2 separate regions of the Homo sapiens genome follow, and region 1 is reported to be linked to region 2. The links are microRNA targets in miRTarBase. Many come from high-throughput screens and were not tested one by one. Region 2 holds a microRNA gene; the other region holds the end of a gene's coding sequence.

What was found. Region 2 holds the annotated microRNA hsa-miR-6782-5p (UAGGGGUGGGGGAAUUCAGGGGUGU, at 1,620-1,644, shown strand). A microRNA usually pairs through its seed, bases 2 to 8, with sites in the 3' UTR of a target mRNA and lowers its output. Matches are read on the target gene's strand: a 7mer-m8 pairs with bases 2 to 8, a 7mer-A1 pairs with bases 2 to 7 and ends in A, and an 8mer does both.
Region 1: miRTarBase lists CYB5B as a target of hsa-miR-6782-5p. Seed matches in the 3' UTR shown: 7mer-A1 at 902-908.

What each region holds. Positions count from the first base shown.
Region 1 is chr16:69,462,167-69,465,166 of GRCh38, forward strand. CYB5B (cytochrome b5 type B) reads left to right here. Exons shown (of 5, transcript NM_030579.3): 5 at 264-3,000. The coding sequence ends at 354. Among named protein-coding and RNA genes, the nearest start is that of CYB5B, 39 kb to the left of the region's middle.
Region 2 is chr17:44,205,928-44,209,453 of GRCh38, reverse strand. MIR6782 (microRNA 6782) reads left to right here and starts at 1,615; the gene lies at 1,615-1,683. UBTF (upstream binding transcription factor) reads left to right here. Exons shown (of 21, transcript NM_014233.4): 17 at 1-102; 18 at 1,543-1,590; 19 at 1,684-1,755; 20 at 1,857-2,000; 21 at 2,087-3,526. The coding sequence ends at 2,212. All of the region lies in intron 1 of ATXN7L3-AS1 (ATXN7L3 antisense RNA 1), which reads right to left. RefSeq lists enhancers at 150-1,349, 1,991-2,491.

The sequences.
Region 1 (3,000 bases), not on the chromosome of region 2:
TTGTAGAAACACATATAGAGGCATTTAAAGACATCTTATTTGATATCATACTATTGGTTGTTTTTAACCTTTTAAAAAATTACTTTGTAATATTGTCACTCCAATTCAAATATTTTTCCCCAACTACTTTGTGATAAAAGCAGTTAAATTTCCCAAAGTAAATAAAAACTCCTTGCCTATATAAAAACATGTGAAAGCTGAAAGATAGTGAACATTTGGCTTAAAATATTAACAACTTTATTGCTTTCTCCCCCTATTCCTAGTTGCTGGGCATATTGGATTTTACCCATCATAGGCGCTGTTCTCTTAGGTTTCCTGTACCGCTACTACACATCGGAAAGCAAATCCTCCTGAGGAGGCCTTGCTGAAGTTAGAAAGTGCATCCACTTTGGGGCGAAAACTAGAGACTTGCTTGGGGGCTGCAGAAGTGCCCTCTCCTCGAATCCTGCCAGTTGCATTCTTCCCCCTTGGAGCCAAGACGATTGGCCAGACATCACCTCAGATCTGAGACCAGCGTCTTCCATCTCTCAGAGCCTTACTCCCAAAGTACCTGCTCACTGTTCCGTGTTGAACAATTGCCGGTGTTTCCTCTCTTCACTGGTTTCCATGAGTACCCTTATATTTCACAACTTTCTGTTCATAAGTTATAGTGACATTGCTCTTTGGTAAAAATGCCTGCTTTCCAATACTTTGATTGCATATTAGACATTCTTAACAGGGCGGCAGTCTAGTGTTGAAAGTTTTATTTTTCCATTTTTCTTTTAAGTAAATTTTTTTTAAAAAATTCTGATTTAGGGCTAGGTGTGGTGGCTCAGGCCTGTAATCCTGGCACTTTGGGAGGCCAAGGTGGGAAGATCGCTTGAGGCCAAGAGTTCAAGACCAGCCTGGGCAACATAGCGAGACCCCTATCTGTATTAAAAAAAAATCTGATTTAATTCTTTTATTTATCATAAGGGGTTTAATTCCTGAAGTAAAGGTTTGCACCTATTAAACTTAAAACTGCCAAATGATTTTTGTTCTTTTATGTGCGTGATAAAAATACAAAGAATGGTGTGGCCACCTCCTCCCTTTCAAGCTAGGGCAGCAGGTAGCTCTTCCCAGCCCCTGAGCCCAGCCCCTTCCCAAGTGGTGCCGGACAAAAAACTACATGGCCCTTTCGTGTCTTGGGGGTGGAAAGGTAGGGATGAATTGGGGTGATAGAACCCTGGTGAATTCAGAGTAATCTTTCTTTAGAAAACTGGTGTTTTCTAAAGAAACAGGATAGGAGTTTAGAGAAGGCACCAAAGCTTTCACTTTGGTTTGGCACCAGTTTCTAACCATCTGTTTTTTCTACCCTAGCTATCTTTTATTGGTAAAATATAAATGTATAATTATGTTTGTAGAGCTTTACCAAGGAGTTTCCCTCCTTTTTTGTTTGTTGATTAGCAAATTTTTGATTCTCCATTTTCCAAAAGTAAGAGACTCCAGCATGGCCTTCTGTTTGCCCCGCAGTAAAGTAACTTCCATATAAAATGGTATTTGAAAGTGAGAGTTCATGACAACAGACCGTTTTCCATTTCATCTGTATTTTATCTCCGTGACTCCAACTTGTGGGTTTGTTCTGTTTTTCCATGAGAATAAAATACTGGCGGTTTTTTTCTCAGATGTGTGTTCATTGAGAAGTAGGTTACTAGAATTATGTTACTGTGTCTTATTGGTTCAATGATGATTTCTCTGGCATATTAGACTTTTATTTTTTCCCCCATGGAAGCACTTGAGGAAATAAATAGTACACTGGCTGTTTTCTGCCAGCAACTGTGGTGATTTTTCTCCCTGTCCTTTGAGAATTGCTAGTCTGCTTCTGAGCCATTGTCATATCCAGCAGGGAGCAGCTTGGTTCAAGAAGGACCATAGAGGCTGCTCAGCATCTCCTCCCTCCCTCCCAGCTTGCCAGGGATTTGATGAGACAGGAAACTGCCCAGCAAACCAGGGACTGCCCATGTAAACTATTTAAGAAAAAGTTCAACCCAGGTCTTGTATCCTGTGATTTAGCAGTTGAATGAATACAGAATTCATCAAAATAATATTAACCTTGTACTTGCACACTTGGATATATTTGGGAGTAATTTTAGGAGATTTCTGGCTGACTTTTATTATCAGGGATATGGGTTTAGTAAAGCTTTTATCTTTAGAAAAATGTTTGTATGCATTATAAGATGCTACTTTTAAGACAATATTGAAAAAAACTTTGGTTATTATTTAACAAAAGTGGTATGACTTGATGCTTCTCTATTTAAAGGCAAGGAAGGATTGGTATATGATTGCCTGTAATAAATAAATTGCGTGATTATTGGAGTACATTGGGGTAAAAGTAAAGAACAGAGGAGTATTGAGGAGCTTGAAAGGGAACATTCAAACTAAAGCCAAGCCTGAAGATAACTTGAATCAGTTGTAAAAGTGTGTTGGCAATGTCCGAAATTGAATGAAAAACATCTGGCTTATAAGAAATGTTAAAGAACTACCATCTTAAGTAAAATTGGTGTTTTTGTTATTTTTAAGGTAAATGCCAATGCAAAAGGTATGTTTTTCTACTTCACATTGGTTTTCTTTTCCTGTTTACATCTGCACTTGTTTTTTGCTGAGAGCCAGAGGAAAAGATAATTAGACTTTGTCTCTTCCACCCATGAAATCCCCCAGTACCCAGGGCTTCTTCTGAACTACTGCCGATGTGATGTCACTTTGTATCTGGAAAATCACTTTGGGGTCCATTTACTGTTATTTTGTTGCCTACAAAAACAGCCAGGTGAAAGCTAAATCTTGTGTGAGAGTTTGCAGAGGTTTTTCTATACAATAAAGTAGTATAGCACACTAGCCAAATCCATCCAAAAGGACCTTTTTTTTAGGAAGTAGACTTGAATTCACAAAACAGTCTTGACATGGGTAGCTGGTGAAAAACCCTCTGGAGAGCAAGTGGAGCCAGTCCCCATTGGCTGACAGTGCCACCTGGAGCTGGTCTCTGGG
Region 2 (3,526 bases):
AGTCGCTGGCAGCGCATCTCCCAGAGCCAGAAGGAGCACTACAAAAAGCTGGCCGAGGAGCAGCAAAAGCAGTACAAGGTGCACCTGGACCTCTGGGTTAAGGTGAGAGGGCAAGGGACCCTTGGAAGGAACAGAGAGGCATCAGACTAAGCCAGCACCATCCTAGCCTGGCCCATCCACCCACTTGTGCTGGCTGGTCTCATTCATGATTTCATTCCATGCCCTCGCAATCCTTCAGGATAACGGTCACTATCACCCTTTTATTTTTATTTTTTTTTTTATTTTTTGAGACAGTCTTGCTCTCCTGCCCAGGCTGGAGTACAGTGGTGTAGTCTCGGCTCACTGCAACCTCCACCTCCCAGGTTCAAGCGATTCTCCTTCCACAGCCTCCAGAGTAGCTGGGGCTACAGACATGTACCACCACACCTGGCTAATTTTTGTATTTTTAGTAGAGATGGGCAGGCTGGTCTCGAACTCCTGACCTCATGTGATCCGCCCACCTCGGCCTCCCAAAGCACTGGGACTACAGGCTTGAGCCACCGTCCGCAGCCACTATCACCCTTTTAAAAATAAGGAAACCAAGGCTCAGAGAGGTTAAGTAACTTGCCCAAGGTCACACAGTAAGTAGAAGAATCCAAATCAGACTGCCTTTTCCTCCCCCATCTGGGACCACGGGACCTCTCCTAGACTCCTGGCCTTTGTGCTTCCCCTCTGTGCTTTGGTTGAGTAGTCAGATCTGTAAAGTGGAGAGAATCACCTGTGTCCTTCCCACTCACCAAGGCAGGTTGGCCAAGGACCCAGGAAGACTGTGGGGATTTGCTGTTTCAGGAGTTTGGTGAGCCCCACTGCCTCATCGATGGCTCAAGGGTTTGGTGTTGGGGTGTGGTTGATGATGCCAGGCTGACTCATCACGGGGGCACTTCTTTGGAGTGAGGAAGACTCTGATAGGAGCTTCCATTTGCGAAAAGCAACAGGGAAAATGTGAAAACCAATAGTCTTAGTGGTTTAGAGAAGGACTCTGGGTATCAGAAGCAGAAATACTAGGGTTTGGGCCAGCGCAGTGGCTCACGCCTGTAATCCTAGCACTTTGGGAGCCCAAGGTATGAAGGATCACTTGAGGCCAGGAGTTCAAGACCATCCTGGGCAACATAGTGAGATTGCTGTCTCTACAAAAAATTATAAGGTAGCATGGTGTGGTGGCACATGCCTGTAGTCCCAGCTACTCTGGAGGCTGAGTTGGAAGGATCACTTGAGCCTGGGAAGGTCAAGGCTGCAGTGAGCTGAGATTGTGCCACTGCACTCCAGCCTGGGTGACAGAGCAAGACCCTGTTTCAAAAAAAAAAAAAAAAAAAAAAAAAAAATTAGAGCTGTGTTCTCAGATCCCAGGGGCTCTCTGCAGAGACCCAAAATCTAGGGAGCCTGGGAGGGGTAAGATGGGGTGATGATATATAAATGCTCAGCCCACTGCCTAGCACTGGGCCAGCATGCTCAGTCAGCAGTAGTTGGCTATGTTCCAACCCTTGCCGCTTCTGTCTCCCCCAGAGCCTGTCTCCCCAGGACCGTGCAGCATATAAAGAGTACATCTCCAATGTGAGTCTGGGAGCAGAGCAGCAGTGGGGTAGGGGTGGGGGAATTCAGGGGTGTCGAACTCATGGCTGCCACCTTTGTGTCCCCATCCTGCAGAAACGTAAGAGCATGACCAAGCTGCGAGGCCCAAACCCCAAATCCAGCCGGACTACTCTGCAGTCCAAGTCGGTAAGGAGCCCCTCCCAGATGCAGGGGCGTGGGGCGGGGGGCACTGCCTGGAATGGTTGGGCAGAGACCAGAGACCACTGATGTGCCTCCATCCCTCCAAGGAGTCCGAGGAGGATGATGAAGAGGATGAGGATGACGAGGACGAGGATGAAGAAGAGGAAGATGATGAGAATGGGGACTCCTCTGAAGATGGCGGCGACTCCTCTGAGTCCAGCAGCGAGGACGAGAGCGAGGATGGGGATGAGGTGGGGCAGACAGGGCACAGTGGGAGGGGAGGGGAGTCCTGCCAGGAGGGCCACCTGGTGACTCCACATCCTTTCTCACCCCCCAGAATGAAGAGGATGACGAGGACGAAGACGACGACGAGGATGACGATGAGGATGAAGATAATGAGTCCGAGGGCAGCAGCTCCAGCTCCTCCTCCTCAGGGGACTCCTCAGACTCTGACTCCAACTGAGGCTCAGCCCCACCCCAGGGCAGCCAGGGAGAGCCCAGGAGCTCCCCTCCCCAACTGACCACCTTTGTTTCTCCCCCATGTTCTGTCCCTTGCCCCCCTGGCCTCCCCCACTTTCTTTCTTTCTTTAAAAAAAAAAAAAAATACGGTGGGGGTAGGGGGCTGGAGGAGCCCAGGCCAGGACTCTGCAGCCTCAGAGACATCAGCCCTTGGGGGTCCTCCTCCAGGGACAGCAACTATCAGACTAAGCCAGCACCGGACCAGCCTGGCCCACCCCACCCACTTCTGCACTTGCGGTTCCGGCATGGACAATGGACCGGAGAGTGGGGGTGGGGGGTCCCAAAGAGTTTGATGAGGCCCTCCACACCTGCGGCCCAATCCAAGGTGGGGTGGAAGCTTGGGGAAGACCCATTCCTTCCCAGAGGGGCCTGCCACCTGGACCCCTGCATTGGAACTGGAGGCAGGGAACATGGGGAGGAGGAGGGTCGGTGCCTTCAAGAAAACAGGCACTGCCCTGGTGGCCCTCTCCCCTGCCCCCTGCAGGAAGGAGCTGCCTGGACCCGTTCATGGGGGAGGGGGCAGAAGTGTTTTTTATATATGTGTATATATTTTTTTTTAAGCTCTGAGCTGTCAACGAGACGTTTCCTACCGATCTCGGCTGCCGTCTCTGTTGTCATTTCTGGGAGAGGGAGGGTTTAGGGGTAGATTTGGAACCTTTTAAAAATGGTCTTGATGTATGTGGAAGAGAGTATGTGTATGTGTGTTCCTGTACATAGCATGGGTGCAGCTGTGGATGTGTGCAAAAGAGTGTGAGTGTGTGTGTGTGTGTGTAAAGGGGTCTGTCCTAGAGCCCACATCAGTTTGTTGTGAATCTGGAAAAAGGGTCGGTGAGGGCCGGGAGATGTTGACCCTGGTGGGAGCAGGCTGAGGCTGCCCCGTTCTCCACATCCTCTGTTTTGCCCAGTCTCTGATTCCATTAGGGGGAGTGTGCTGAAGCCATTCTCGGATGCTTCCCAGACCAGGCTCCCTCTGCCAGAGTCACATGCATCCGAGCTGCTGGTCTCCATTGTCCAGCAGGAAGGCGGAAAGGCAGGCAAGATGGTGTGAAGCTTAAAGCTTGTATTTGATGGAAAAGGTCTCCCCTGTTCATCTGAGAGGCCAAGCCTGGCCACCCCAGGCTCAGAACCTGGGCTTCAAGAAATGTGCTGGGAGCTCCTAACTTACACATCCCTCCAGCCTTCCTTGAATCCTCCCACCACCCCCTATTTCCTTTAATTTCTCAGGTCTGCTCCCTCCTCCCCCAACCCCACAGCTGGG